Regions from separate parts of the Homo sapiens genome. Here regions 1, 2, 3, 5, 6 and 7 are each reported to be linked to region 4. The links are microRNA targets in miRTarBase. Many come from high-throughput screens and were not tested one by one. Region 4 holds a microRNA gene; each other region holds the end of a gene's coding sequence.
Evidence for each region. The annotated mature microRNA hsa-miR-1-3p reads UGGAAUGUAAAGAAGUAUGUAU and lies in region 4 at 2,365-2,386, shown strand. An mRNA with a match to its seed (bases 2 to 7 or 8) in the 3' UTR can be bound and repressed. Matches are read on the target gene's strand: a 7mer-m8 pairs with bases 2 to 8, a 7mer-A1 pairs with bases 2 to 7 and ends in A, and an 8mer does both.

Region 1: miRTarBase lists LRRC8C as a target of hsa-miR-1-3p. Seed matches in the 3' UTR shown: 7mer-A1 at 2-8.
Region 2: the mRNA of NHSL3 is a reported target of hsa-miR-1-3p. Seed matches in the 3' UTR shown: 7mer-A1 at 1,418-1,424.
Region 3: the mRNA of TTC17 is a reported target of hsa-miR-1-3p. Seed matches in the 3' UTR shown: 7mer-A1 at 1,078-1,084.
Region 5: miRTarBase lists RARB as a target of hsa-miR-1-3p. Seed matches in the 3' UTR shown: 7mer-m8 at 3,588-3,594.
Region 6: miRTarBase lists UGGT2 as a target of hsa-miR-1-3p. The part of its 3' UTR that is shown has no 7-base or 8-base seed match.
Region 7: the mRNA of PPM1H is a reported target of hsa-miR-1-3p. Seed matches in the 3' UTR shown: 7mer-m8 at 1,107-1,113 and 7mer-A1 at 2,224-2,230.

The regions. Positions count from the first base shown.
Region 1 is chr1:89,714,351-89,718,823 of GRCh38, reverse strand. It overlaps LRRC8C (leucine rich repeat containing 8 VRAC subunit C), which reads right to left. Exons shown (of 3, transcript NM_032270.5): 3 at 1-4,473. The coding sequence ends at 3,842. Among named protein-coding and RNA genes, the nearest start is that of LRRC8C, 83 kb to the right of the region's middle.
Region 2 is chr1:32,771,914-32,776,383 of GRCh38, forward strand. NHSL3 (NHS like 3) reads left to right here. Exons shown (of 7, transcript NM_020888.3): 6 at 1-528; 7 at 952-3,057. The coding sequence ends at 974. YARS1 (tyrosyl-tRNA synthetase 1) reads right to left here. Exons shown (of 13, transcript NM_003680.4): 13 at 3,326-4,178. The coding sequence ends at 4,068. Among named protein-coding and RNA genes, the nearest start is that of NHSL3, 32 kb to the left of the region's middle. RefSeq lists a silencer at 1,095-1,389.
Region 3 is chr11:43,493,328-43,497,800 of GRCh38, forward strand. It overlaps TTC17 (tetratricopeptide repeat domain 17), which reads left to right. Exons shown (of 24, transcript NM_018259.6): 24 at 446-1,604. The coding sequence ends at 577. Among named protein-coding and RNA genes, the nearest start is that of MIR670, 64 kb to the right of the region's middle.
Region 4 is chr20:62,551,987-62,556,459 of GRCh38, forward strand. It overlaps MIR1-1 (microRNA 1-1), which reads left to right and starts at 2,320; the gene lies at 2,320-2,390. MIR1-1HG (MIR1-1 host gene) reads left to right here. Exons shown (of 4, transcript NR_171007.1): 2 at 1,479-1,679.
Region 5 is chr3:25,595,759-25,600,231 of GRCh38, reverse strand. RARB (retinoic acid receptor beta) reads right to left here. Exons shown (of 8, transcript NM_000965.5): 8 at 2,300-3,812. The coding sequence ends at 3,616. TOP2B (DNA topoisomerase II beta) reads left to right here. Exons shown (of 36, transcript NM_001330700.2): 35 at 703-797; 36 at 1,755-2,248. The coding sequence ends at 1,925. Among named protein-coding and RNA genes, the nearest start is that of TOP2B, 67 kb to the left of the region's middle.
Region 6 is chr13:95,798,274-95,802,746 of GRCh38, reverse strand. UGGT2 (UDP-glucose glycoprotein glucosyltransferase 2) reads left to right here. Exons shown (of 39, transcript NM_020121.4): 39 at 935-1,167. The coding sequence ends at 957. Among named protein-coding and RNA genes, the nearest start is that of DNAJC3, 120 kb to the right of the region's middle.
Region 7 is chr12:62,644,532-62,649,004 of GRCh38, reverse strand. PPM1H (protein phosphatase, Mg2+/Mn2+ dependent 1H) reads left to right here. Exons shown (of 10, transcript NM_020700.2): 10 at 369-4,473. The coding sequence ends at 516. Among named protein-coding and RNA genes, the nearest start is that of MIRLET7I, 43 kb to the right of the region's middle.

The sequences.
Region 1 (4,473 bases), not on the chromosome of region 4:
ATGGAATGCTATCCTGAGTTACTAAGAGCTTAATAAAATTTGACTGTTTGAATCACATTATCACATTCAGAATTCATAGGATAATGTTAATTGAATCTTAATTTAGTCTCTAAAAACAAAGTGGAATTATATTCAAATTGACTTTATCTGTTCACTACTAAGTATGCTGACACTTTTCATAATGATGGATTAGGAATCTTTGCTGCTTAAATATATCATTTCTATTGATCAGGTATTTGGTATGAAATTAGATTAGAGGTAAAAGAAACTACTTAAAGAATGAACTTTTCTTATAATAGAAAATAAATAACAGCACAACCCTTCTTGGGGGAAGTGTTAATAAGAGATATAAAGATTTTGTTTTTTCTTTTTTAATATCAGAAATCCTGAAATAGCATACTGTAAGAATTTGGACTTCACTTAACCCAAGTAAATACAAGGAAGATTTTTGTCTAAGACCCTCTCCACAAAGACAACTTGAGAGCCAGGTAAATGGCTACATCTGAACAAAATATTCATAGCAGGTATGTTTTCCAGGTCTTTCTGAAAAAGCAGTACCTACTGCATACGATGCAATGTAAATTGTTGAAACTCCTTGAAACAGATGGGAAATACAATGGCAGGGGAAGGGGTGGGTGAAGAATAACTTACACTTGAAATAAGAGATTTCACTGTATCAAGAATCTTTATATTAAAAGAGCTGCATTAAAAACAAAAGCAAATCAAACCCAACACATAATGAGAAAATGCAATAATTTCTGAGGTGTGGTCTTCTTTGGTGAGTTCCACTGGGATATATTTATATGCTCTCTTTCAACCAGGCCATCACCAAACAATTGTTTGTTCTGTACTTAACAATTAAAACTGACAAAAAGACTTTTTCATCATGAGCTTCAAGCAGCCATAGGAGTTAAGAACACATATGGTGCTTTTATATTTACACAAGCAATCTCTCATGAGTCCTATAGAGATTGGGGAAATAGAGCTATAATAGTTATTCCTTTTTAGAAAGAGCACTTGTAAAATACGGAAAGTGGTTAGATAAATATCCCTCTATACAGAATTGATCAGTTAAAGAACTTTAGAAAAGTCAGCAGTTCATTACCTGAGTTTCCCAGTTAAGGGCTAACTAGTAATTAAATGTTTTTTTTACTTAAGAAAGTGAACAAAAACTTACAATATTAAAAGGGGCCAGTGTCAGAAAATTTAGACTCAAAATTAAGTTTCAGACTTTTGAAGGTTTATAAAATCTAATAGGAATATCTATGAATTTTCCTTCTTAGTTAAAACATGAAGTCACAGAACTATACTGACTTACCAGATGTTATCAAAACTTAGGTTGGGGGTCAGCCTGCAAAATCACTAAAAAACAAATCAATATTTTTTTGGAATTTTGAGCAAATTTTTACAAGTGATAAAAATGAATTATTAGTGACCTCGGTTATGAACCCATATGAGATTTTTAGTTAACACCAGATAAAGACTTCAGCATAAGCGTGATTTTTAACCTGAAGAGATCCCTTTTGAAGGGTAATATAGAAAATAACTATAAATTTTATCCAGAAAAATAGTGCACCCAGTGTTTTGCCAGCAGTTACCTAAGCTTGCCTTTCGACGAGGTATTTTTGTCATGCTCAACCATGGACAATCGGCCAACAAATTATTTGTTTAAAACAGATAGGGCTATGTTTCTAAATACAACACATTATTCAAACTCAGGATTCCAACACTATTCTGAAATTGAATACTTTATCATACAAGAACTATAACCATGTTATTATTCTGAGCACATTATTTCAATTCCAGGTCTAAATTAATCAGCAAAATCACCATTCTAAAACATTAACATAGAGCAGAAACGTAAAGCACTTTGGTCTGTATAATTAGATTATTAAACAAATCGAAAGAATCTCTTTCCCTAATGCTTCACCTCATGATGTAAAGTTGAAAACACAACTTAGGAACACATTTCTGAGGAGCAATTCCCAACATTTGTTTCTGTATACAACTCAAAGCAGCACTGAGTAAATTCACCCAAAGAACAATTTTAAAAAACAACATTTTGAAAACCCAAAGCATCTTTCTACTTTCTTTCATTGTTAAGTCACAAAACTTACTACGATCAGTCTAGAGCTCAGAAAATGGTCAATGTGAATTTGGTACATAAAACAAAGTTCTCATAATTAGTGGTTCTGGTTCTAGGTCAAGGGCACAAATAGTGTATTTCATTTTCCTGTTCTACATGCTTAATAGTCAGTGAAATATTTTGCCCAAGAGCCCATGCTATGTTGGATTTTAATTACAAAGGTAAATAAAAGCTCTGCTGATGGTCAGGCAAAAATTATTGCTAAGCAACAACCACTTAGCAATTTATTCACACTTTAACGAACAATTTTAGATGAGATACATATTTTAAGCCAGAGAGCAGATGGATTTCCCGTGCTTGTAGCACTAGTTCACAGCAAGGGCAGGCTTGAGGGAAATCGATTAATATCCAGTCATCCCTCGGTATCATGGGGAATTGATTCCAGGATGCCCTCGAACACCAAAATCTGAGGATGTTCAAAATCCTTGACATAAAATGGTGCAGAAATTGCATATAACCTATGCACATCCTCCCATATACTTTAAATCATCTCTAGGTAATTTATAATACCTAAAACAATGTAAATCCTATTTAAATAGTTGTTACGCTGTATTGTTTAGGGAATAATGACAAGGAAAAAGTCTGTACATATTCAGTACAGACACAACTTTCTTTTTGAGTATTTTCCATCTACAGTTGGTGGAATCCACAGATGCAGAACCCACAAGTACGGAAGGCTGACTGTATATATAAGTGGATTATTTTGTGTAACAGGCAAAATTTGAATAGATTACCACTGCCACACTGTGCTGAGAAAAGGAGAGGGCCTCACTGGAGCACACCAGCTCTTTAACAGGGTGCTTTAGTAAATTTTTTTCCATCTGATGCAGCTGCATATCAAGATATGAAAGATGATTAAATTACTCAAAAACCAGGCTTCTATCATTTTAAAATTTAATTATCTATTAGAATATTAAAATAAATCTAGGTTCTCCAAAGTTGTTCACCAGTACTACATAGCAGTATTGAGATTAAGGTGGGAGGAGCCTCTGTATTTAGGTTTTAAATATTTTTAAAATGTTGGTAAAATGCAAATAAGTTAAATGATAAAGGCCTAATTCAAACATACCAGCCACTAAAGATTATTTTCTTCACTCACAAAAACCTTGCCTAAGGATAACAATAACTGTCAGGTATATGAAATAACACAGTTTAGGGTTTTGTTGGAGGCAGGGGAACATTTAAAATACTCTATGACAATGCACTTATGTGAAGTTCCACTGAATGAAGGTCTTGGCCAATGGAGAAGACAGCTGGTATTAAAATAACTAGCACAGATTCCTTGATACACACACAATGAAAACAAAAATAAGAACCCTGTACAGGTGTAAACAAGTTAAAAATGGCCTTGGCAAAATATCTTCCTCTATTTAAAAAATGCCAAAAAGCATGCAACTTATAATTCCCTCCTTTCCACAAGAATGAACTAAAAAACAAAAACAAAAAACCAAATGGAACTATCTCTTTCTGTCAGTAGATAATAGATACATTGTGTTTCAAGACAAATAAAACTTCAAAATATTAATATTGAAAAAATACAATTAAATTTTTATTAAAAATACATACTCCTTACGCGATCTTTGTGTACATTTTGTGTGAAAAGGAAAAAAAAATAGGAAAGGCATTAAGACTACCTAATTATTTATACTGTATTTGGTAGAAGCGTGTTTCAGTCAAACTTTAACGAAAAATAAGTTATTCTGTTTTCATTTGCTCCCGGACGTCAGAAGGCAGAGTTTCAAACAGAGCATCTTCTACAACTAAACCAGCTCGCTTCAGAGCCCGACAGTCACCCAGTTCAGGAGGGAGGATTTCAAAGTGATTACCTTTTACATCTAAGTAGGAAAGAAATAGCAAATTTCCAATTTTCGGTGAAAGTACAGATAGGCTGTTTTTTCCAATCTTCAGAGTTTTAAGTTTCTTGCAGAAGTAGAGTTCATCTGGAAGGCTTTCCACTTTGTTACATGTGATGGAAAAATACTGTAAACTTTGTAGAACTCCAATTTCAGGGGGGATAAATCGAATGTCATTGTACGATAAGTCCAAGTATCGGATCTTGTTGCATAGGAAGAGGTGGGAAGGCAGCACCTCTATTTTATTGTGACTAAAGGACAGGCGTTCCAGGCTGGTGAGTTTCTTTATATGCTCTGGGATGTAGGTGATGCTGTTATGCCACAGTTTTAGCACTGTCAACTTTCTTAAGTGCTGAAAGCTAACGATTTCTTCTATAGATTTCAGATTGTTTTCCTTCAGGTCCAATTCCTGGAGGCTGAGTAGGCTGAACACAGCATGAGGAATACGCTCCAGGTCACAGTGGACCAGCTCCA
Region 2 (4,470 bases), not on the chromosome of region 4:
TGCGAAGGGCCCTGTCAGGGCGGGCCAGCCCAGTGCCTGCCCCCTCCTCAGGGCTCCATGCTGCGGTCCGACTCAAGGCCTGCAGCCTGGCCGCCAGTGAAGGCCTCTCAAGTGCTCAGCCCAACGGACCGCCTGAGGCAGAGCCACGGCCTCCCCAGTCCCCTGCCTCAACGGCCAGTTTCATCTTCTCCAAGGGCTCTAGGAAGCTGCAGCTGGAGCGGCCCGTGTCCCCTGAGACCCAGGCTGACCTCCAGCGGAATCTGGTGGCAGAACTCCGGAGCATCTCAGAGCAGCGGCCACCCCAGGCCCCAAAGAAGTCACCTAAGGCTCCCCCACCTGTGGCCCGCAAGCCGTCTGTGGGAGTCCCCCCACCCGCCTCCCCCAGTTACCCTCGAGCTGAGCCCCTTACTGCTCCTCCCACCAATGGGCTCCCTCACACCCAGGACAGGACTAAGAGGGAGCTGGCGGAGAATGGAGGTGTCCTGCAGCTGGTGGGCCCAGAGGAGAAGATGGGCCTCCCGGGCTCAGGTACAGTGGGCAGTGCTAGGGTGAGGTCCCATTGCTGATGATGGGAAGTAGGAATCTGAAGTCCCGCCATGGGGGATTTGTTCTTGGATCTTTAACTTTTCTGGTCTGAGAATGCCTGGGAAGGGCAAGCTGTCACCCTTGCTGGGGCCCAGAGGAGAATGGTGTGTGAGTGTCAGGCCTACTGTGTTTGAATTCCAACTTTGCCTCTTTCCCTACCCTTCCTAGCTACATTGTAAAGTGTGGGGCAGTGACACCTACATTATAGTGTCTGAACATGTGTAGGGTGTCCAGCCCAGTGCTGCGGGCACTGTCAGTAAATCAAAGCGGTAAGAAGGTTGGGTGAGGGTATGCTTTGTTGGGCTCCTAGTGCCAGAACCAAGCCAGGAGGCCCCTTGCTAAGTGTCTCTTATTTTTCTCCCCCAGACTCACAGAAAGAGCTGGCCTGACCACCAGGCACCTCACTGGCACTGCTGACCCATCCCAGAAACACAATCTCAGGGACCCGAGCAGCTCCAAGGACGAGAGGATACAGCAGACACAACCTAATAGAGAGGGCGCCTGCAGCCTTAACCTCCACGGCCTTCGATACTTATGCAAGCCTGGTGTTGCTCCTGTCCTCAGAGTCATCCTGCGCTCATGCCTTTTCCCGAATGGGTTCACCTCTGGCAGTTGCCGCTTCAGTCTTGGCCTTAGCCTCATCTTGAAGTGGGTAGCTGGCGGGAGAGGGTGGCTGCGCCCCCTGCTGGCCCTGAGGCTGCAGAGTTGGGAGCAGGACACCTCACCTGAGTTTCATTTTTTTTCATGTCCAAACCATGCACATACTATAGTCCAGAATCAAAGCACTTTTGAAAAGTGGCTGCATGGCCATCCTCCAGGGCCCAGGAAGTTGCATTCCAAGGGCCTGTTTACATGGCAGCAGAATCCATCCCCGGCAGTCAGCCCATAGCTTGGGACCAGTCTGTGCCCTCCTGCCCAGTCCAGTTTACTCCTCTTGGTTCCTGAAGGTGGCCAAGTCATTGTGTTCCCACAGGCTTCTCTAGGCTGGGGGCAGGTGTGGGGCTGTGGAATTCCAAAGCACAAAAGGTGCAGAGGGGATTGGCCTTCCTGTGCCTCAACTCACCAACCACCCTCCTGCCTTCCAGTTCTGCCAGGTGCTCCATGCTGGGGACAAGTAGGAGACTGCCAGGGCCCAAAGAAATGGGTGAGCAGTAGAGTCATCTCGGGGCACTTGGCAGTGTCAAGCACCTGCCCCTTGCCTCCTTGACCACACTGGGGTGGGTGGGCCCCCAGCACTTCAGAGGCAGGAGCCTTTGGGCTGAGCAAGCACTGAGGAGGTGGATGGAAGGGAGCATCTGGAGGGGGGGAGCTTCCTTGAGCAGTGGGCCCAGGCCTGGCCCTCCACACTTCATTCTCTGACCTTTCTCTCTCCTCATTTCGGTGCATGTCCTTTCTGCAGCTGCCTTTCAGCACAGGTGGTTCCACTGGGGGCAGCTAACGCTGAGTGACAAGGATGGGAAGCCACAGGTGCATTTTACTCAAGTCTTCTCTAGTCAATGAGGGGCACCCAGTGCTTCTAGGGCAGGCTGGGTGGTGGTCCCCTAGGTATCAGCCTCTCTTACTGTACTCTCCGGGAATGTTAACCTTTCTATTTTCAGCCTGTGCCACCTGTCTAGGCAAGCTGGCTTCCCCATTGGCCCCTGTGGGTCCACAGCAGCGTGGCTGCCCCCCAGGGCCACCGCTTCTTTCTTGATCCTCTTTCCTTAACAGTGACTTGGGCTTGAGTCTGGCAAGGAACCTTGCTTTTAGCTTCACCACCAAGGAGAGAGGTTGACATGACCTCCCCGCCCCCTCACCAAGGCTGGGAACAGAGGGGATGTGGTGAGAGCCAGGTTCCTCTGGCCCTCTCCAGGGTGTTTTCCACTAGTCACTACTGTCTTCTCCTTGTAGCTAATCAATCAATATTCTTCCCTTGCCTGTGGGCAGTGGAGAGTGCTGCTGGGTGTACGCTGCACCTGCCCACTGAGTTGGGGAAAGAGGATAATCAGTGAGCACTGTTCTGCTCAGAGCTCCTGATCTACCCCACCCCCTAGGATCCAGGACTGGGTCAAAGCTGCATGAAACCAGGCCCTGGCAGCAACCTGGGAATGGCTGGAGGTGGGAGAGAACCTGACTTCTCTTTCCCTCTCCCTCCTCCAACATTACTGGAACTCTATCCTGTTAGGATCTTCTGAGCTTGTTTCCCTGCTGGGTGGGACAGAGGACAAAGGAGAAGGGAGGGTCTAGAAGAGGCAGCCCTTCTTTGTCCTCTGGGGTAAATGAGCTTGACCTAGAGTAAATGGAGAGACCAAAAGCCTCTGATTTTTAATTTCCATAAAATGTTAGAAGTATATATATACATATATATATTTCTTTAAATTTTTGAGTCTTTGATATGTCTAAAAATCCATTCCCTCTGCCCTGAAGCCTGAGTGAGACACATGAAGAAAACTGTGTTTCATTTAAAGATGTTAATTAAATGATTGAAACTTGGCTGTGGCTACTGCTTCTTAATGTGGGGGGGACAGGGCAGTGGTCTGGGCCCACATTTAGAAGGGAAAATGTTTTGCCTGCTGCACACATTGGACCCAAGTATGGGCCTCTTCTGCCTAGTACTGCCAAAGGGACTGTTAAGGTGTCTTGTCCATCTTCTACCCCCCACCCCCCATTACAGGGTAAAGGAACCCCAGACTAGGTGAGGGGCCAGCAGCTGCCTCACACTTGTGTTCTCTCCTGAGATGGTCCAGCTCACATCCAGACACCCTTGTTCAGACATTTTATTTGAATTTATGACAGTGATGGGGATTTGACTGAGATGCCTTATGGAGAAGTACCCCACCCTCTATGAAGACAGAATCACTCTCTGCCATTCATTCTGCCTGATGCTAACAACACGCAGCTGATTTAGGGAGTGTCCCAGCCTAGCTGGATCAAGGGAAATTCCAGGAGCCCTGGGGCAGGCCCTGGCCCCCAGTGCCAAGCCTCAGAGTAAGCAGACATTGGGAAAGTTGCCAACCACTTGGTAGACCACTAGGTTCTCTGTTTTCCCTTCCCTTTCCTTTTCAAATCCCACAGTTTCCTGTTGGGGAGAAGCTGTAATTAGCCTAGTCCAGGTACCAGATCCCAGCTAGGGGCGCAGCTGCTTGGATAACTCCAAGAAAACCTGGGCACCAGTATTTTTCCAATTATAAGGACTGTGGCATAAATTTTTAAATGAGTTATATTGAAACCAGATTTCTCCAGCTGCCAAGGGAAGAAGGTAGGGCTGGACTCCCTGCTGTGGCCCAGCCCTTGTTAGGGGTTGGTCTCTCACTGCAGCCAGACAGGATGATCCTGGGTTCTGGGGAGGGTAAGCTGCCCCTTGCCGAGTTCTGCACCGAATAAAGAGTCCAAACCCGCTGCTTCCGTGTCCTGAGAGATGGGTAAATGGGTGATGGATGGAGCAGACTGAAGAGACAGCAGATGACTCAGTGGTGGAAGAAGGGGGGAAGATGCTGGGCTGGCTAGCTAATGTTCCCCCCTTTCAGCGATTTACAGGAAATGGAGCCCAGCTTGGTCATGAAGTTGGTTTGCTTCCACTGTGCGATGCACTCCTCAGAAATTTTGAAGTCAGCCTGGACAAGACAGATAAGAGAGATTTTAATGATGGTGGTGGGACTGCAAGAAAACCCCCCCTTTTTTGGAGGGGGGGCAGAGTTTTGCTCTTGTTGCCCAGGCTGGAGTGCAATGGCGTGATCTTGGCTCACCGCAACCTCTGCCTCCCAGGTTCAAGCGATTCTCCTGCCTGAGCCTTCCGAGTAGCTGGGACTACAGGCATGCACCACCACGCCCGACTAATTTTGTACTTTTAGTAGACACGGGGTTTCTCCATGTTGGTCAGGCTGGTCTTGAACTCCTGACCTCAAG
Region 3 (4,473 bases), not on the chromosome of region 4:
TACATTAGAAAATTTAGGCAGATGCATAATGGGCATTTGTCAGGCACGGTTCTGGAGGTTTCTGTGAGGATTAAATGGAAGGATTTCATAAAGCACCTAGCACAGCCTGGCACACTTCAGGCACTCAGGAATGTTAGGTCTCATTATTACCACAATTATTACTGTTGCTGGGTTTGTAAAAGCTGCTCTACCCCTTTTCCTTTTGTTCTTGGGCTCTGCCGTAGTTTCCTTTGTTCATCCCATACCTCATTCCCATACCTCGGGAATGAAGGCAGCTGTTTCCTCCCAGAGGAACCTCAGAGTTTTCCACAAAGACTTAGATCCGTTGAGCAAATGCTGCGGGATTGTCCCTAGTACAGAGGTGCTTCTTGAGAAAAAAGAGGTCACAGTATATATTTAGTCTGCTGGTGCCATCCCCTCACATTTCTCTCCTTGGCCCTCACAGGAAGAATTTGAAAAAGCACTGGTGTGGTATGAATCCACATTGAAGCTTCAGCCCGAGTTTGTCCCAGCCAAGAACCGAATCCAGACCATCCAGTGTCACTTAATGCTGAAGAAGGGACGGCGCTCTCCTTAGTGCACTTCTTCCTTCTCTCTTTCTCTTTACTCATGCTCTAAAAAAAAAGAATAAGAAAAGAAACCAATCATTGTCAGTATCTACTATTAATGATGTGTGTGAAAATAACTAAGACTTATAACAGGACTTTTACATATGTGGGAATTGGTTTGTTTTTGTTTTTACGTTTCTCCTTTCCCCCAACCAACCTCAGAAGAGGCACCTTCAGAAACACACATTTCTTAAAAGGAAAGTGCAGCTTCAAGATATTGTGTAAATACTGAGCCAAGACATTTCTGGAGCTGTGCTCTGTCTCCAAAAACCTCAATGCCTTTAGGGCTTTTCTCAGTGGTCCAGCTAGCCTTCTCTTTGGAGGAGGATGAAGCCGCATTGCACATTCTCTGCTTCCTGTCGTAGCCTCTGTTGTCAATGGAAATGCGGAAGCCCATCTGGTGCCCGTCAGTGAGAAGCAACGTTCTGCGCTCTCTCCGTTAGACCTCCATGCTGTCCCCAGTCTTGTCCATTCCATGCTGCTGTGTTACAAACTCTCAGAGGTAGTTTGCAGGGGAGGAAGGGGAATATGATTTTAAAAACAAAATATTTACAACAACAAAAATTCTTAGGATCACCTGACCTTTGTAATGTTATTTATGTTGGGGAGGGAGGGGGGCTGAGAAGGGGAAATCAGCAGTGTGCAACATCTTTATAATTTGTACTTTAATTACAAATCACAAGGAAACCAATAAGTTGAAATCCTATATAACAGGTTTATATATATAGAATATGTATATTTGAAGCCCTCTACAGACTGAGTCTATGTTTTACTAATTCTTTGTTCACTGTGTTACCCATCTTGGAATAAGTTGTGAATGTCAGCTCCCTCTCTCTGAGGCCTCCAGACTTAGCTCCTCAGGAGGGTAATGAGCCAAGGTTGAGTGTTTCCATACAATGCTTTTACCTTTGATCCCAGGAGAATCAGAAACTCCAACATTTTGGAATCTTCAAGGGCACATACTGAGAAAAAAAATAAAATTGTTTATGAGCAAAATAGGTCTGTCATGTGATTTTTCTTTAGAACCTGACTAATTTGGGCAGCTGTGAAGTCCAGCTTTAACTCTGGATGTGATCTTCCCAAGCCCTACATTGGCTTTATCTTTCTTTCAGCAGCAAGGTGAGGGGAGAAAAAACAATCCATCACTAGGTTTTATAGTTGATGAACTTATTAGAATGATGCATTTAACCGGGAAAGACTTACAGTCAGCACATGTTCAGAGTTTGGTATATAATTGACCTTCCTGGCAAAGGAATAATCATCTAAGCCACAAAGTCATGGCCCTCAGGTAAGCACTGATCTTAAAGTTCATCCAAGTAAGTTTCACAGACAGCCTTGGGGTGCATCGTGTAAGTCAGGCATTCCCCTTGGGACAGGATTCCACTGAAGGCAGCATTTCTATGGACTTTGCTAGGATGTAATCAGACACTGATTGTCTCAGATAATGGCTCATGGAACTTGAAGGGTTTGGTTCTAGCAAAGACTAATTTCTTCCAAGCAGGTCTGTAATTTCTTACACCAGACATACCTGTGACCTCTCTACGCAGCTAAAGTCCAACAAACTCCAGTTTTATCAGATGTATTTTGAGAACAGCAAGCTCATTTGTTACTGAATACAGTCAGCCTTTATGCACTCAGGGATCCATCGAAATTAACTAGTATCTAAGTGTGGTTCCCTGCTTCCCCACCTCACCACAATTTTTTCCTGAAACCTTCAACAGTTGCTTGACTTTTTTTTTAAGACGCAGTTTCACTCTTGTTGCCCAGGCTGGAGTGCAATGGTGCAATTTCAGCTCACTGCAACCTCTGCCTCCCAGGTTCAAGCAGTTCTCCTGCCTCAGCCTCCCAAGTAGCTGGGATTACAGGCATGTGCCACCACACCTGGCTAATTTTTTGTATTTTTAGTAGAGACGGGGTTTCACCATGTTGGCCAGGCTGGTTTTGAACTCCTGACCTCAGGTGATCCACGCACCTCAGCCTCCCAAAGTGCTGGGATTACAGGCGTGAGCCACCATGCCCAGCCCAGTCACTTGACTTTTTAAAATTAACATACTATGAAATTCATTCTGGTGTACAGTTCTATCATGCAACCATCACAACAATCAAGATACAAAACTTTCATCACCCCAAAAAGACTCCCCCATGCTGTCCCTTTGTAGTCAAACCTCCCCAACCCTTAACCCTGGGCAACCACGGGTCTGCTCTCCCACCCCGTCACTTTTCCTTTTCCATAGTGTCATATAAATGGAATTCGGGTATGGCCTTTTGAGTCCGGCTTCTTTCCCTCAACATATTGAATGCACTTGGGGTTCGCCCATGTTGCGTGGATCAACGATTCGATACTTTTTGTTGCTGAGTAGTGTTCCATTGATTGTTGGCCTGTTGGAGGACACTGGGATGCTTCCAGCTTCTGGAGATTGTAAATAAAGCTGCAATAAACACTTGCATATAGGTTTGGCCGGGCACAGTGGCTCATGCCTATAATCCCAGCACTTTGGGAGGCTGAGGTGGGTGGATCACTTGAGGTCAGGAGTTCAAAACCAGCCTGACCAACATGGTGAAACCCTGTCTCTTCTAAAAATACAAAAAAATTAGCCAGCGTGGTGGTGGGGGCCTGTAATCCCAGCTACTCAGGAGGCTGAGGCACGAGGATCACTTGACCCCAGGAAGCAGAGGTTGCAGTGAGCTGAGATTGCACCACTGCACTCCAGCCTGGGTGACAGAGTGAGACTCTGTCTAAAAAAATAAATAGTATATAGGTTTTTGTGTGCACATAGGTTTTTGTTTCTTTTGTGTTAATAATTCAACAAATATTTTTCTACTCTGGACTTTTTTTTTTTTTTTTTTGAGACAGTCTTGCTCTGTCGCCAGGCTGGAGTGCAGTGGCACAATCTCCGCTCACTGCAAACTCCACCTCCTGCTTTCAAGCGATTCTGTTGCCTCAGCCTCCCGAGTAGTGGGACTACAGGTGCATGCCACCACGCCCAGCTAATTTTTGTATTTTTAATAGAGACGGGGTTTTACCATGTTGACCAGGATGGCCTCGACCTCTTAAAAGCAGGAATGGTCAGCCAACAATGAATGGAGGCACCTTCGAGTCGGTTTTATACAGAAGGAGTACAGGGTAGGAACAGCTACAAATCTGCTTATCTGAAAGGAAGAGGAAAGAGCTAGATCTCTCTTTGAAATGACTTGGAATTGCCTCCACAGCATTGTTGCCAGCCTCATTTCAGATGCTGCTTCAAATCAGGTGTGGTGGGAAGCTGTACTGTGTGAAGGCTGACAGACCATGAATGTGTACCTCCTGCAGGGCTGGTGATGCGAGGGCCCAGTGATGATGCAAAGGCAGGCAGCAGCCCTGCCCTGTGGGTGCCATCCTGGAACTCTATGGGGCTTATTTACTAGATAGGTCAAAGGTCTGACTCACACTAGACTTAGACACTGGCACCAACTAGCTGGGAATGAAACTTGGAGTCCAACTCTCCAGCACAAAGGGCAGCTGTTAGTGGCCTTTCTGTTCCACATACAGCAAGGGTCTGAGAGCTTCCAAGGCAGATTCCCCCAGAACTTTGGCCTCATGAGAACTTTGGCTCTGTAGCAACTCCTCTGTGGTAGGACCGTTCCTGACTCAGAGCCCGAGAATGGGTTCAACAAATCTGGGTTCAAATCTTAGTCCCGCCTCTCGTTAGCAAGGAGATCTTGAACAAGTATTTAGCTCTGAGCTGAATTTCTCACTGAAATAAAATAATCTGAGAATGATAAGAGCTACTGTTCTTCACAGGGGATAGCTGTGAGAAGTAAGGGAGATTTTTAAAATATGAAGCATTTAGCACAATGCAAACACCCAGGAAGGGGTAGCTATTGT
Region 4 (4,473 bases):
GGCTTGAGCCAGGCTGCGGGAGTGTCCCAGGCTCTGAGAGCTCATGTGCCAGGGAGCTGGGGACGTTGAGGAGGCCTTTTCCCTGGACTCCGGGGACGGTTATTGCGGAGGTCTTGGGAGGGCACAGATGAGCGGCGGAACCCAGGTGCCCCCGAAGTTGAAGCTCAGGCTGCGGTGTCGGGTGCCCTTTTTGTATCCTTGGCTACGTGAAAATGATAAATCACAGCAGCTACGTGGAAATGGGACATCAGCTTCTGCTTCTGTCTGCCATTTGCTCCTTCCTTTGTAGAGGGGATGCCTCCAGAGCCTTAAGCACAACCCCCACCCCCCGCCCCCACCCACCCCCACGTGAAACTCCAACCCAGCCATGCCCAGCTGCAGACCCACTGCCACACAGCCACAGCATGCTCAGTGGCCTCTGCACACTGCAGGCTCTGCGGAGACATTGCCCTGCCCTGGGTGGTAAGAGAGAACCAACTCGCTCCGGGCTGTCCCCTCGCATGGACGGGCTGCCTGGAGGAGCAACAGAGTCATGTTGGACCTCTCTTCCTGATGAGGACAACGGGAGGTCCTTTCATGTCCCGGGGCTGCTGTCCCACCCCACGCCAGGGTCAGTGGCAGGACAGGGGCCAGGGCCCAGCTGGACCCCACCGCTTAGCAAGCCTCCTGTGTCTGTGCCCGGCCTGCACCCCCAACTGGCGCCTCCCTGGCCCCCGTCCCCCCCAGGCACCTGCAAAGCCTTCTTTCCACCTCTCACCACCGCACGTGCCAGGCTCGCCCTGGGCCACTGCGAGGCCTCGAAACCCTGCAGGCCTCCTCCTCCTCCTCCTCCTCCTCTCCCCGCTCCCAGCAGGTTCGGGGCGGCTTCCCTTCCTGCTGGTGAGGGCCTAACCTTGAGGTCCCATTGGTCTCCTTCTGGCTCTTTCTCCACATTTTTCAGAGTCTGGCTTCACGGCTGGTCATAGAAGTTGGCAGGGAAGGAGGCAGCCTCTGCTTCCCACTCAGAGACATTTTTAAACGCAATGAAAAACATATCGATACAATTAAGTATTCCAAAGTGCTTAGTTTGCCACTCGCTAAGTTTACTTAAACCCTCTTTAACAGGCTCATTAGGAGCTGGTGAGCACCGGGAAATTCATTAACAGGAAGGCGGCCCCCTGCATTTGACTGTAAATTGGTATTGATCAGGGGCTGGTGGAGGCTGGGCGGCTGGCCACAAAGAGCCAGGTGTGGGACCAGCCTCCCGGGGGTGCCACGGCAGTGGCGCTGGGCAGGTGACGGTGGCTGCTGACCCCCGGTGCCCATGTAAGCTGCTGGCTCTGCGCAGCTGCCGCTTCAGGTGGGCCGCACTGCGCGGCGGTTCAGGGTGGTGACGCTGCGAGGCGGGGACGGGGGAGAGGGTGAAGAAGAGCGAGAGAAGGAGGGAGAGAACCGGGGGAGCGACGCTCCCTCGCCCACTGGGTGTCTGCTGTGGCCAGGCTGAGGCACCTAGGGAGTTGCCCCCCTAGTGGACGGCCTCTCAGGAGATCCTGACCACCCTCTGGGAACCTGGACTCCTCCAAGCATCGTCTTTCTCGCCTGCATCTTCGGAGAGAGGTGCTGAGCCCTTCCTCATGGATACGGGGTCCCGGGAGGCAGCCTTCACCAGGGACCTGCCCAGGAAACCAGCAGATGCCCAGGTAAGCCCCCAGGACACCTCTCGGGTCTCTGGTCTGCAGTTCCTCGTCTGGCCTCAGGAGCAAGGAGTTGTCCAGCTCCCGGAGAAGGAGGAGGCTGGTCCTGCGAGTGGGGTGCTGGGCAGGGCGCCCCCCAAGGTTCCTCTCTCCACCCAGCCCTCTCTGGGCTTGGCTGGGATGAGGTGACCCAGGGGGACAGGAAAGTGTTGGCTTTGAAAGTTTGGGACATGGATGATGCCTCCCTGCTCTGGGGTGAGGGTGGAGGGGCAGCCTGTCTCTTCCATGGACGCAAAACCGAGCTACTGCTGGGGCCAGGGACAGGCGCTCGAGACTTTCTGGGGCTCACTGTCCACTTCTGCCTTTCTGGATCGTGTGAGTGTGTGAGACAGACAGAGAGAGATGGATTCAGGGATGGAGGGGCGCCGAGGTCAGAAGGGGGCAGGGAGTCCTGGGCCCCTGGGGGTGGCTGGACACCAGGCAGCAGTGGCAGGAAGGCTGTCCTGCTCACACAGAGAGGGCTCCGGCAGTAGACTCCAGGGAAGAAGTTACACTGCCTCTGAGCTGCCTTCTCTACATCGCAGTGGGGTCAGCTTCTACCGGGGCGGCGTCCCGGGGTCTTGGAACTGCATGCAGACTGCCTGCTTGGGAAACATACTTCTTTATATGCCCATATGGACCTGCTAAGCTATGGAATGTAAAGAAGTATGTATCTCAGGCCGGGACCTCTCTCGCCGCACTGAGGGGCACTCCACACCACGGGGGCCGCCGCGGCCGACAGCCAGCCAGGCGGCTGTGGTGGGGGTGAGGCTGGGGCGGCAGGCTGCCTGGGCGTTGGTGGACGGTCGTGTCCCCGCCAGCATTGTTCTGTCACTTTGCCTGTGTCAGCAGGTGGAAGTGCTCACCAGACATTAAATATTCAGCTTGCTGACTGCGGCAGAGGGGAGGCGGCCTCCGGCAGGCGCGGGGTCCAGCGCGGGGCTGGTGAGGGCTGGGGGGTCGGGGCCGTGGCTGGAAAGCACGGAGTGGTGGCGGCGGCTCTGGGGGCTCCACTGATGGCCATCCTGGAAGAGGCCATCAGCCGGCAGAAAGGGCCACGTGTGGCCAGGGCAGAAACTGCTCAGAGGCACAAGACAAGAGCGAGTTTGGAAAAGGGCAGGTGGCTGGATGCAGAAAGGAGGGAGAGGCTGGGCAGCACATGGTAGAGTCTGCGGAGGGAAGGCACCTCCTGCACCTGCATCCAGCCCTCCCGGCTGTAGGGCAAGGCAGAGGAACTCGGAGGCATGTAGCCTCCAAGGAAGGCGCAGCCCACACGAGATGCTGGGGACGCGGGCAGGGTCAGGGCCACCACTGCCCTTAGGCCCCACTCCTCTGCCGAGGGCACCTGGGACAGGGTCAGAGGAGCTGAGTCTGTGCAGCCCTGAACCCACAGCCCACCCCAGGGGCCTGGGAGCCGTTCGATTTTGCCAAATGTCTGGTTCATGCCGCCCCAACCTGTACCCCCACCAAAGCCCCGGTTCAGCTTTCTCTCTGTTCCGCCGAATCCAACCTGAGGCATGTTTTGCTGTGAATGCAGGTGAGGCTTTGGCAGAAAGCAGCGTGTGGCCCAGGGCCCCTTGCCCCACCTGTCGGGGGCCTGAGAGCCATCTGCTCTGCCGCCATCCCAGTCCTGACCCGAGAAAGGACTGGGAGGATGTCCTGGGGCCCAGGGGATGAGGGCAGGTCCGGATCCGTCCGTGAAACCCTTTTCCCCAGTGCTGGTCCTTCAAGGAGAGGATGGGCGGCGGGTTCTGGGGTCTTAGGCAGCGGCTGGGCTGCTGTGTGAGGGGCGTTTGCCCGGCTCGTTTCTGAGTCTCAGATTGGAGGCGTTTGCCACCTGGGATGAGGCCAGGTCCCTGCCTGGGCACCCCCACCCTGCCACAGGCCTCAGGATTAATTTCTGGGGTGTGTGTCCTCTCTGCCTTGGCACTGCTCCAGCCACAGCGGTGCCCCTGTGCCCTACCTCCCGCACCCTGGCCTTCGGCAGGAATGAGGCGGGAAGGGACAGGCAGGCAGCCCCCTCCTGCAGCGGCTGGAGGCCTTGGGTCTGGGGGCAGCCAGGTCACCTGAGCAGCTGGGGCCAGCATAGGGAGCGCTGGATAAAGGGATTGGGGGCCGTTCTGAGCTTTCAGGTGGCTCCCACCCCTCAGGGAGCCTCGAGGTGACTGGAGGGGAGGGCCTGGCAGTCAGGGCTCCTGGCCTTCAGGTCTTCCTTCTGGAAACTTCGTTCTCCCAGCCTCAGCCCCATCTGGCGTAGCAGCAAGGGGGCGGGTGTTGACCTCGGGCACAGCCTCCTCTCGGCCTCTGGACCCGGAGGGTCAGTGCCCAGCATCCGCTGACGTCATCTCTTCCCTGCCTGCTCCCAGCTCCGGCCACAGGGAGGGAAGTAGCCGGGCGTGTGGCCACCGAGGCTGCCGGTGGCCACAGACACACCGTTCTTTTCCCCTAGATGCGGCTGTTGTACATTAAAGCTTTATTGCAGGATGTGGTGTTTAAATAAAAGCATTAGTGTTTTGGAATTAGGTTTGACTGAGCAGTAAAACTGGAGAGTTCACAGGGAGAGAGCTGCGGCCTGCTTGGCGGTAAATCACCTCCAGTCTCTGATCTGCTGAATTAAAAATGAGCATTGCACGGACACCGCCCATGGCAGCCCGAGCCCCTCTCCCCTGCACGTGTGGCCTGATGGTGCTCCCTGGGGATCCTGCTGCTTTCCTGGAGACACTGGGACCCGGGGCTGGAGTCTCCCATGCGTGAATCTCTA
Region 5 (4,473 bases), not on the chromosome of region 4:
GGGATGGAGAACATCTGGCCCCTACTTAAATATTACCTTTTCTCCTTCCACCTCCAATGATGAGAATAAGAGGTTAGGTAGGTGAAAAAAAATGCTGCATGTGCTGAGTCTAGGTCTGAGAAGGAATATGTATTTGACATTTTATAGTTAATACTGGTGGTTCTCATATGGTGCCACTTAATGTGGGATATGCAATTGGTTGTTACTAGTCTTTGATAAGTAAAACGGAGTAAACATTTAGACCTTTATAATAATGTGTTACTAAAACAGCATGTGATTACATTTTTTAGTAATTTGTGTTCTATGGTATTTTTAAAAGTATTGGCCCATGACAAATTAGAAATGAAAAAAAATATTTAAATCCCATGTAATTTAAGAAGTACTCTTCCAAGATATTTCCTTTTCAGGCTCAAGGACCAAATAGCAAATACAAATGTTTTATGTATGAAGGGATTCATCATTAAAATTTGTCTTTGGGACTTTCCCACTAGTTTAAATGTATTTGTCAAAAAGTCTTTGGTCATGTCAACCCCAGAATTGAAATGCTACTGCCAAATTGTTTATAATCACTCATAGTAAGAGATCAGGACTGCAATGCTCCACTGATTGGGCATGCCAAAGAAATAAACTACAATGTTGTGGCATTTATCTTTTTATATTGCACTTAACCACGGAAGAAAAAACCTTTTGTATCATTTTAAGGTAAAGGCCGAGGGGCAAAGAAAAGGAAAGCATCTGGCTCTGAAAATGAAGGCGATTATAACCCTGGCAGGAAAACATCCAAAACAACAAGCAAGGTAACCGGGAACATCATTGCATATTAGTGCATGGCTTTTTAAAAAAAGATCTGTAAGTGACTTAGTTTGCTTATGACTATAGTCCTGGAACAGCTTTCCACCTAGCATCTCGTATCAATATGGGGCTTGTATTTGGTTAAGAAATTATTCAAGTATAAATTTATATAATCAGGACTATTTCCTAAATAACTGTGCTATAAATTAACCTACTTAGAACCTTCCATTTCATCCACTGAACTGTAGTAGTGTTATGCTACCTAAATATTAGACTCTTTCAGACTAAAATATTATTTTTCAGACTAAAGACTGTTTCCTTTTAACTTGGATTTATTTGACCAGGGCTAATTTGATTTTTTTTTTAATTGAATTCATTTGACTGTGGCTGATTTTTCCAATTAGTCTGACCCTTTTCCAGAAGTACACTATTTCTTTTAGGTAAATGAATGACATCAGCTCCCCCGCATCCCTTTTTATGTTGATTTCCACATTGACCTCTTCCATTCAGTCATCTTCTATGTCTCAGGTCCACCTCGGTGATGCTTTGCATTTTTTTAAACACTTACAGTGCACACATACTACACACGGTGCAGGAGTCTTGTTTCCTCCCATGAATTCTTGATATGTACTTACCAGTAGGACAGCTTGAATTTTTACTAATCTGGGCATTGTGCATACTTTTTGGGTAATATATAATTTCAGAAATAAAGGTGTTACATTTTTCAGGCTAGAACTTGGTAAATATGAAACCACCAAGGTGGTGAATTACTGTATGTAATCTTTTTCCTCCAAAAAATAAGATAACTGGTCTTACACTTAGGTTAGCATTATGATTCTAATTTTAAAAGCACCATTATTTGTAATACTTCCTAAACATAAGCGAAGTTTAAGGAGTGATAGTTCTTAATACTAGTCTTTACTTCCTTTCATAACTTTTAAATCTATTGAAAAAAAATCTAGAAACCGAAGAAGACATCTTTTGATCAGGATTCAGATGTGGACATCTTCCCCTCAGACTTCCCTACTGAGCCACCTTCTCTGCCACGAACCGGTCGGGCTAGGAAAGAAGTAAAATATTTTGCAGAGTCTGATGAAGAAGAAGATGATGTTGATTTTGCAATGTTTAATTAAGTGCCCAAAGAGCACAAACATTTTTCAACAAATATCTTGTGTTGTCCTTTTGTCTTCTCTGTCTCAGACTTTTGTACATCTGGCTTATTTTAATGTGATGATGTAATTGACGGTTTTTTATTATTGTGGTAGGCCTTTTAACATTTTGTTCTTACACATACAGTTTTATGCTCTTTTTTACTCATTGAAATGTCACGTACTGTCTGATTGGCTTGTAGAATTGTTATAGACTGCCGTGCATTAGCACAGATTTTAATTGTCATGGTTACAAACTACAGACCTGCTTTTTGAAATGAAATTTAAACATTAAAAATGGAACTGTGTTCTCTGTCTCTTTACTGAAGATAAAGGTGTAGTAAAAGCTCCCACACACCTTTAAAATAAATATATTTTATTCTTTGCCAGGAGACTCCATGGAAAAAGGTAAACAGTATATGAACATAGAAAGCATTGTTAAACAAACAATCTCAATGTACAAACAGAGCCAGTGAAAGTACATCACAGACTTGCTAATATATCAAAAAAAAAAAATTCCACTAGTGCTTAAATGAGAACTAAGAAACTGACACTTGTATCTGTTAACCACTCTACCACAGCTTTCACTCTGCTTCATAGTGATTGAACAAGGTCAAAGGAGGCAGATTCTATGCCTGTTTCTTTGGGAGTTGTTAATATTAATTAGCCCCTTGGCATCAAGAAGGCTGGAAAAAAAAATCCCAATATCAGGCATGAATCAGGAAGGACACTAGAGTTACATGGTCCAGGTGGTAGACCAGCCTGCTAATTATCCCATGAAATTTCCCTAATGGCTTGTGAACAAGTAAACAAAAACTTAACACTGAAAAGTGTTTCTGCCTTGGAGGCTATCATTACTGTAAAAAAATTTTTTTTAACTAACTGTGTAGTTATGTCATTAAACAAGTAATAAACCACTTTTAATTTAAAGTGACATTAACAATTGAACAAATGACATTTGATTAACTGAACTGGCAGTTACACTGATACAGAATTCTCTTCTGCTAGTGCAGGGAATTTGTATACTTTTACTGGGCAACATGAAATAAAAGATGCAGTTTGAGAGCATCAGAAAGAGCAAAGACAAGCTTCCATACTAACTAAAGTAGAATATCTTCAGCCTTATCTTGTCATACTGTACAATAGTCCTGTCAATAGTCCTGTTTCCTTACCTTGATGTCTTGACTATTCCATGAAAGCAAGACAGTTATCTTTTTGAACCTAGGTAGACGTGTACAGTAGTCTATTTCATAACCTTGGTGTCATGGTTATTTTGAGTATGCAAGACAAAAGGAAAGCACCAAACATACAGTATAGAAAGAACAGAGCCATACTTCTGTATGTACAAAGTCTTCAGAAACTTAACCAGGGGTAAATCATTTTGACTGGGTCTTTGCCATGCAATCTTGAGTGTTCAAAGAGGAAAATAGAAGCTTTTAACTAGTTTCTGGTTGCATGAAATGGCTGATTTTTTAAAATTGGAAAAGTTTGTATTTCTAGGTAAGTTACACAGTGAGGAGTATATATATTGATACATATGAAAACTTCTTGGTCCTTCTTGAGTTTTAATATCTTTTCAGTCCAAAAACTAAGCAGCAGTAAAAATGTTTTTTCTTGCATTTTAAATCCTGGAACTGAAGGTACTGGGGAATGTTTGAAGTAGCTAGAAAATGTCTTATTGCACGAGTGGTGACTGACTGACCCCACTGTTTTCCACTGAGCTGGGTGAGATGCTAGGACTGTGCTCTGCTGTGTTCCCACTTGAACTTGGGGTCAAGGGTTCATGTCCTTCAGAATTCTCCAGCATTTCTTGAATGAGAGGTGGCATTGATCCAGGAATTTCCATTTTCAAGGTAATTACACGCTCTGCACCTTTTCAAAAGAGATAATGGAAATATGGTTAAGATAAGGAGTTAAGCTATGACAGATAACCAGGGACCAATTTTCATATATTTTAACAGAGGTGTTTCCTAAGATTCTTGCTTAGGAATTATGAAATGTAGATATCAGGTGGCTTTTTGTTGAAAAAGATCTATCGATTACTATCACACTCATAAATACAAAGAAAGATAAATGTATTTGGAATGGGAACTGCATCCACCAAAAATCATGTGTTAGTTTATTGCAAAGTTAGTTAGATTGGGTTCTCAACCAGCTCAGACTCATAGTATGTTGATAGAGAGGGTCTTTTTATGATCTGCTAGAACTTCATTCGTCTTTTATGCAAGCAATAACTGATACAATTGCTCCTTTTGATAACAGAAAATTATGCAAACAATGCCTCCCAGAGGCTATCCTTATTTTACACCATTAAAACATTTTTACTTTGTGGAAAAGCAGCTGAGATATGGTGACGTTTAAATATGATGTCTTAGTTTCAGGAAATAACAATTTACAAAGAGAAGTTCCTGATGAAAGAAGTGTATCTTGAAAAAGACAGGTTGATGGCAGTTACCCACAAACAGAGGAGTTCACGATGTGCAGTGACTATTGACAACTAGATTTAGCAGCACTCTGTCCAGTACAATACCCA
Region 6 (4,473 bases), not on the chromosome of region 4:
GCTGACAGGCACAGATTTTCCACGGACGGCCCTTTACTTGATAGCCTCACTGTGTGACTCACTGTCCACTGGCGTTTGTTATAGCCTCGTCCAGCCTCCTCCATCAGGAAAGCCAACTCATCGTTTCAGCGGTGTATCCTGGGATGAAGTTGTTTCGTGCAGTCTATCCCTGTTTCCCATTTCTTGAAATTCATTGGTAACTTTGCCCCAACAAGTGTCTTGTAACCACTTCCCTCGTTCTCATTATTGTTTTTCCTTTTTATATTTATTATCTTTCCAGTAGAATTTAGTGAAGAAATATAGTCTGCCATCTTGAATTGTGGAACAGCATGCATTTAAATTGTATTTTATTTAATTTCTGCCTGAAAATATTGAGTTCTCAGTGATTTACATCAGTTGGTATGTGACAGCTCAGTGATGCAGAAGAGACCATTTTGTTCTCTGAGAGTCTCATCAGAATTGTGCTTGCATTTATGTAGTACTTATGTCTATGTCAGAGTGCTGTGTCCTCCCATCTTAGATGACGACTATATATTAATATGTCCTCTGCTTTCTGTTGTTCCATTACATTAAGGGTAGAATACTGTATTCACAGTGAATAATCTGTTAGTATTCTTCAAGACCTCTTATCTGCCAGGCAGGATGCTAGATCCTAAAGATAACAAAGATAAGTAAGGTATGTTCCTTGTCCTCATAGACTCATGGGAGCTCACATTCTAGGTGGGTAGAAAGACCAGTAGTTATGAGACAATATAATAGACATCACAGTGTACAAAGAGCTATTCTCGTGTTGCGTAATGAAGCATATAGGTACTGAACTAGCAAATAAAGGATCCTCAGTCAGTACCGGTGCTTCCTCATCATATGTAAGTAATATTTAAGATATTTTTATGTTTAAGATGCCAGAAGCTAAATAAACTTTTCTCCCTTATAGTTTTGACACATGATGAACTCTAGCACTGGTGTATATGAGAAGGAAGGCGAAAGCATGACAGGAAACCTGCCGCCTGCTGGGGAAGTCTGGAGCCCCTGCTGAGACGATTTGGAAGTCTCGTTAAGATCAGTGACATATTCTTTAATTTTAAAAAATTGTAATTATTTAAAACAGTTATTTAATGTATTGAATGAGTTTAAGTTATATAATAAATGACCATTGAGTATTTAAAACCTGATTGTTCCTTTTTCCTGATCACCAGTTAAAGTTTGACATTTTGCCAGATAGCCCAGGTACCGGACTAGCTGGTGTTTATCAAACTATAGCCTTTTGTATCTGGTTTTATGTGCATCCACATTTCCTTATTCACAAAATGCATTTAAAATTACAGAAATGCATTTAGGCTGGGTGCAGTGGCTACACCTGTAATCCCAGCACTTTAGGAGGCCAAGACAGGTGGATCAGCTGAGTTCAGGAGTTTGAGACCACCCTGGCCAACATGGCAGAACCCCGTCTCTACGAAAAATACAAAAAATTAGCTGGGCGTGACGGTGGGCGCCTGTAATCCCAGCTACTTGGGAGCCTGAGGCAGGAGAATTGTTTGAACCCGGGAGGCAGGGGTTTCAGTGAGCCGATATTGCGCCCATTGCACTCAAGCCTGGGCGACAGAGTAAGACTGTCTCAAAAAATAATAACAATAATAATATTACAGAAATGCATTTAAAATTACAGAAACCTATTTTGTATTTTTCCTTCTGAGACAACAATAATTAATAATTAAGCCCATTTATTCCTTAACTATTGTTTTAAAATGGAAGTAATATTGTTGCATAGTAATCATTTATCTTAAACAATGTTTTAATCTTATGCGGTATTTGGATTTTTTAATGTTTCTAATTTTATGTCATAAAAAGCATTTATGGGCATGTGGGATATATGTGTATTCTCTTTTTAAAAGGACTAGGTACTTTTATGGGAACTAAGTTGAGGATGTAACCAGTTTGTTTTTCTGATGTGTATTAATAATAGATGAATAATAGTAAATGTTTAAAAACTATCCAACTATTCTAAAATCATAGGATCATGGGACTGGAAGAGAACTCAGTGCCATTTGGACCTCATCCTGTGGAGAGTCTGATTCATTAGGTCTAAAGTAAGCTTGGTAAATCATGATTGTTTAAAAAGCTCTCCAGATGGTTCTGTAATTAGACAAGTTTGAGAAGCATTTAATAGAATTGGGCCCCAGCCAGTGTGCCGGCCCCTCTTCTAAGGCCCTGCCTGTAAAGCTGAGCCTCAGGCCATCTTGGAAATTCCAGGACAACAGGGAACTCTCCACCTCTAGAGACAGGCTGGTCCATCTTTGGACAGCTCTGTACACACAGTTCCATCATGAGCCGAAGCTCACTCCTGTGAGCTTTTCAGAACAAGGCTAATCCTTCTGTGTTTGACAGAACAGCCCATAGAGTTAAAATACTACTCCTCCCATCAGCTCCATTCATTCCTAATAAGAGAGCGCCTGCCTCTCCCTCTTGCAGTCATCCTCCCTTTGTTACTTGTTCGTGTTTGTCTGTATTAAAATGGAGTGCACCATTTATGGCCTGCTCTGGTGGAACTAGGTTATTCCTGTGAGTTCAGAGTATCCTATAGGGTACACTCAGAGGCTGGAGCAGTAAATGGTCCTGGGGCGGCCAGCGTCATGGTGCTCTCCGGCTCACTCTTGGGAGTCAGCTGAAGCTGGGGATTGGTAAGAGGTGAGACTCTGTAAGGTTCTAGGTCAGGCCAGATGCTCCACCCAGCTACCCAGAGGTCTGCTGCGGTGGCTGGGGCACAAACCTCAACTATAAGATGGTACTTTGTTTTCCTTTGTTACCAGCCTGTCTTCACTTCTGTGAGAATCTTATAGAAAGGATGATCAGCTGGGCAGAGACACCGGATTCCTACTTTTATTACCTACAATGGCCTTCTCCAGTATTCTAGGTCCCATATTTTCATGGAGTATTAAGCTAAAATTACAGAACAATGTAAACACAGTCTTGATGGCCCCCCTCCCTGTTTGCATCTTGTGATCTGAGTGGCCAGTTTACATGTTACATTTCCAGGTGAGTGACACCTTATACCAGAAAATCCAGATTTATAAATAAGGTATTTCTTTACAGTGAGATGTTTTAATTAAATGGCTTGTTTTAAAAATGCTGTTATGTCAAGAGCTCTCATGCATACAAACTGCTGTGCCATACAAAAATGTACCCTCCTCAGGGACACATTACATAACTGAACCATAGGTCTTATTTGCTAACACTTGGAGAGAAAGCCATTCAGTTCCTTGTCCTGGAGATGCTGAACAAATATAGTCCAACGGCTTTCATGGTATATTCAGGATCCTAAATTCTGGTTCTCGGCTGCAGGCCCTATGTCAAGTTTTAACAAAAATCAAATCCTAGAAGTAGTGGAGGTCAGCGGAATGTGGGGGAACTAGTTTCTAACTATGGGAAGTGATAAATGTCTTCTCTTTCTGCCTTCTTAGAAAAAGTGTCAGAACAGTGTATCTAAACTAAGAATGAGAAGCATTTGTGTTTGACCCACAGTGATGTGTGAGCTTTATGTAGAAAGTAGACCCAGAATCTGAGCATTAAGACAATCCAAAGTCAGCATACCACCTCCAACACTTAGGTCCAAAAGATTGTATTTGGGAAATGCCTGTCATTTGGCTCCAGTTACCCTCAAGCTCCTAGAGAACAACATAGCTCCTAGAAGGATAGCATCAAATACTTCTAAAGGCACCTAAAGCCATGTCAGCCTGGGGTTATAAAATCAGGCTTTTAATATTAAACATGTAGTCTGACACAAGTGGGACCTGCCCACAGAACTGCTTGTTGCTGTGTGCCAGGTCCTGACTCCAGCACCTGAAAAGCAACCAGACAACAAATTGCCACTGCCCAGAAGAGGCTCCAGGGACCCAACAGAATACTTTCATGGGCAGGAGGTACGGGACAAGTCAGATGAACACGTGGATCATGTGTCTCAGATCCATAGTTACAGAGATGAAGTAAAAGGTGCTGATGGGCCCATGCTCAAACCAACAAGCAGAAGTTATGACCCAGCCATTGTCTCACTCACTTCTGTTACTTCATAGACTGAAGGGGCTCCACTCACTTCTAAAGAACCAGTTGATTGGTTAAAATCTCACCTTTGGTGGCAGAGTGAGGAAGAGGAAACATGATGGTCCAGGGCTTTGATGGCCAAAATTACAGGTAACTTTGTAAGTTAGAGGGGCTCGGTCAGGTGTGTAAGCCCATTCTAGAACCTCTCTTTTTTAAAGTCTTCAAGTGTTATCGTAATGTGACAGCTGTTCCCCATTTTCTATTTGTTAACCCCATTTACCAAATACAAACTTCTATTTTCTGAGAAATTCTCAGGTAAAGCCTCTTGACTTAGAACTAGTAACACCTCTGTTGTAAAGATCTCTGATTTGGAAAATAATCTTCTCCTCTACAGTTAATAATTACTTGAAGTGAAGAAGTTTACTTCAATCATGTGGA
Region 7 (4,473 bases), not on the chromosome of region 4:
ACTTTTTAAGCTAGATACCATTTGTCATGGAAAGCTCTGAGCTTGAGCAGCTCTTTGAGCTATACTAGCAGCAAACTGAGACTCCCCTCAATGTAATCAATCAAAAACATCAAAAGAGGACTGAGGAGGTGAATAATGTAAGACATTATCTAATGTATTTAGTGCCTTATCCCACTACCATGTAAACAATAATCTCACATTAGGTGTCCTACATTTTGGGAAAAGATGACCTTGTCTTTTTCGTATTGTAAGTGTATTTGAAACTTATTTATACAACTGTAGTGATGCCTCCCCCTTCCCAGCCTCACTTGACCCTGGCTTCTGTCTGATGCTCTACTGACTGTCTCGTTCCTGGTTCTCCTGTGTAGGTACACACTGGCAGCTCAGGACCTGGTGATGCGTGCCCGGGGTGTGCTGAAGGACAGAGGATGGCGGATATCTAATGACCGACTGGGCTCAGGAGACGACATTTCTGTATATGTCATTCCTTTAATACATGGAAACAAGCTGTCATGAAAATGGCCCAGGGGATTGGGAGGACAGAGGGGAAGAAAGCTGGGATGCCTCTTGGCAGGACGGAACTGGGAAGTGCCCCAGCTGAGTTCCAAGTGATGCAGTCTCTTCCCAGCCCAAGCGGGGAGTTCATGGCCAAAAGACTATGCTTCAAGATGACCCTTTGGTTTCCATTTCTTCTTTAGTAACAGGTCAACTCAACAAGAGCAAAACACAAAGGCTGCTACCAAGTGTTGTTGTATTTCAGTTCCTTTCATAGGCCTCCGAGGTGGCCATTGACTATTTGGGGTATATATGTCATATTTATTTTATCTAGAGTAGCTGGGGCAGCCATTTTCAGGTGTAAATGGCAGAGGACTCTTCAGCCTGTCAAGCTGCCAGCTTATCTACGGGTTAAAAAGTGCTGCATTGGAAAGTAGGGGGTCATGCCTCAAAATGTAAGTAAGTGCCCACCTTCTAGGAAGCCTGAGGTTTATTTCAGGGATTGCCGTCTGCCCCCCGCCCCCCTTCTCTTTTTTTCTTCTCTGTTTCTATTCTTTTATGGCAGTGGTGGAGTGAGGCAGGGATTTTTTTTTTTTTTTTTCGTGTTTTTGACATTCCTTGAATCTGTTTTTTATTCCCCTTCCACAGAACAGGCCTGGGACTTTCCAACACCCTGCTAAGGAAGTTCTGTGTCCAAGTCCCACCCAGGCTGGGTTGTCCCCACCTCCTCCAGCCCACACAGCCCAGGCAGCATCCGGGCCAGTGCCCTGCATGACAGAGGGTCTTTGTTGTGTAATGTTTGTTCCCAAGTTGCATTTTCTAACCGAATCAGTGTGTTTTCATGAAACTGAGTGTTTCTGTGGACCAGTAGTTCCTCTGTTGTCTTCAGTGGTCTTCCTGTGTGGCTCAAGGGTTCTCTGTGAGAGTCTGGATTTTCATTTCTGGAATGGCTGGCCCCATCCCACTTTTCTGTATCATGGGGACACATATAAAGCAGTGTTTAATAGAGCAGTTTAAGAAGTTGCTTGCATCTGTTGGTTCACCATGGCTCATCTGGGGACCATTTTGGATTCATGTTTCATGGCTTGTGACTGTCCCCAAGCCCACTCCAAACAAAGTGTAAGGATCAGAGTTCTGTCAAGGAGCAGCAGTTCTGCTCTCCCCATCATCTTTGTGCAAGGCCCCTCGGGGGGCACTTTAATAAAAGAATTTGAAATGGGTTGACTGGCCATTCTCATGCTGTGCTCCCTGTCTCTTCTCTTCTCTAAAGAATCATGTCCCAGCTCCTCAAGGTCCCTCTATGGTTCCACATCTGAGTGTTCGCCACAAGAGCAGCAGCAGCAGGCACAGTGCATGCCATATCTACCTGCTGCTTCTCTGCTGGGAGGAATGGCCAAGTAGATTATAAAACTCACTTCTGTCTCTTAGGCAGACTTGTACGGCCACAAAATTACCTAGTCTTCTTCCTGCTGAGCTACTGAGGTATTGCCACCATTTTGACAACTTTGAGTAATTAAAACACTCTTCTGACCCAAAAAGGAAAAAAGGTCACTGACGTGACCCCCCCAGCATGCTAGAGAGCTAATTCCAGTTCTCATATTTGTTTGAATTTCTTCCCAGAGGAGAGGATAGGAACCTCTCCTCCAGGGCAGTAAATCACCTGCATTTCTGGAGTTGTCGGTATTGTATTCGAAAAGGCCTGGAGCCCCTCCTGCTCAGGAAAGAACTCATTCCAGGGTGTGGAGACAGTGCCGTCTGGCAGGTGAAATACTGTGGGAATTCACGCCACCAGGTGTTTGTGCAAGTGTTGGCCTGGGAAGAATGGGACTTCGGCCTTGTCAGGAGTTGTCTTCATCTGCAGCACGTTTCTTCCTCCTGCAGTAGATCTTAGCTACCCCAGATATCTCTATGGAGAGAAGTTTGTGGAAAATGCTTTGCTTCGTGGCAGAGTCTGATGCTGTAGGAAAACCTTCGGGCATGTGACAGCAGTGTGGTCCACTCCCTGTTCTGCCCTGGCACTCAGAGTCATGTGTAAGTAGGAAACCTGAGCAAGTCTTCCGTGGAGGACCCTGAGCTGCCGTCTTTGGGATCCTTCCTGTGTCCCCACCGTCTTTCATTTATTTGCTTTCCTGGGCCTCTATCTGGGCCCTACCTTGAGCTTCTCCAGTTTTATTCAAGCCACCAGAGTAAGAATTTGGGTGTAGATGTCACAACTACCTTCTACTCAATTCACCAATTCATTTACTGCTATGGCACGTCTCAGGAATAACTCTAGAAACCTCTAAATCGAAATATTATAAAATCTTGAGCACTTAGTCCTGCTGGTTTTAGTTAGAAAGGCATCCAGGAATTGTTTTCCTACGCCCCCTTGAGTGGAAAGATCTTAGTTAGAAGATAAAGTCAAGTTTGTGTTCAGGGGATGGGAGGAAGACTATAAATAAGATGAAGAAATCAAAAGTAGGAAACATGATGTAAACGAAGCATGGCAGATCTGTCCAGCACTGATATTGCTCTATAAATTGAGCTTACTCAGTTTTGGCCTTATTTTTTTACCCAGGCCCCATGTCACCCAGTCCTAAAACAGTAACCGTGTCTACATAACGGGTTGGCCCCTGGTGCATCCCTGGAAAAGTCAAAGGACGCACACTTCGAAATTCTGCAGAACGTATTTATACATGGTTCAGAAATCTTGCGTATCTGACTTATAGCCAAATCTGCTTGCTCGAATAGCCTCAGAGGAAGTCTTGTTTAATAAAAACCTTTTGATTTCCTAGTCAAGTCTTTATGGTTGTCTCGAGGGGTGTGTGGCTACTTTAATGAAAGGCTTTCCTGCTCTAAATCTCTTTGCTGGGCTGGGCCTCTTCAGACTATCTGGTGAAACTCCTTTCCTTAGAACAAACTCAGTCCGTCCATGCTCTGTGGCATTTTGCTAGATGATAACCAAAGCCTTATTCCTGTAGCCAGTGTCAGCAGTCAGAGAGGTGGAGGGTGTGTTCTGCTGTGGTTATGCATACCTATCTGCTGTTCTTGAGGTGTAAAAGGAAAGGTGAAAATCGGGCCAGGCCAAGTACTCAGCTGTCTTAATAGGATGAAGCCTTAAGCAGTGGAAATTTCAGTTATTTTCCACAGTATTCCATTTTGGAGGATTTGGGGTGTTTACTTTTTAAATTCTTGAACAACTTAACCTCCATGAGGCTTTGTGAAGTCAGCTGTGACCACCCTCCTCTTACTGTGTTCTCAGTATTCATTCACTTCCAGGGAAGAATGACAGCCACAGGGAGATGGTGGTGGGCAAGAATGAGAGTCCCAGGATCCAGATTTAGCCTCAGATCTTCCCCATTCAGGAAGGGTTTTCCATTTAACAAGAGCACTAGTATGAAAACATTAGGGACAAATCTCCCATGTCTTTGAAATTCGGATTCTCCTCTTGAGATCCCCTTCCTCACCTGCCAATCAACTTTATAAGGCCACAAGTGGTCACTGGTTTTCCTTCCACAGGTTTGAGGTTCTCAGCTTTCCTTAAGCGACCCAGCAGCTCCGCTGTTTTCAGAGTGAATATGTTAAGCTTTGATGAGATTCTATTTTCAGTAAGTTAGTGCTTCTGGGACACTTGGAGAAAGCTGTGAGAGTCATTGTCTACGCAAAGAACAACGAAGCTGATCCTAAAAGTGATCCAATCTAAGAAAATGGTAAAACGAGCTCTGGCCACAGCACAGAATTTTATGTGAGGAACTCAGATTTTTGAAGACTTAACAATTGCAGAGAAAGGTTGCAGCCTGCACACCATAGCCCACCTCTCTGAGCAGACTTTGGTTTTGTGTGGTGACGTGGCACATGTTTGTACACTGGGATTTTTCAAAGGACGCTACGCGAGCAGACTGACTTGCCTCTTCTGTGAGCACTGTGGCTTTTGTCAGATGGAGTGCCGGTCTGCAGAGGACTGCTCTTTCGAATCCACAGTGTTATCTGTGTAAATAG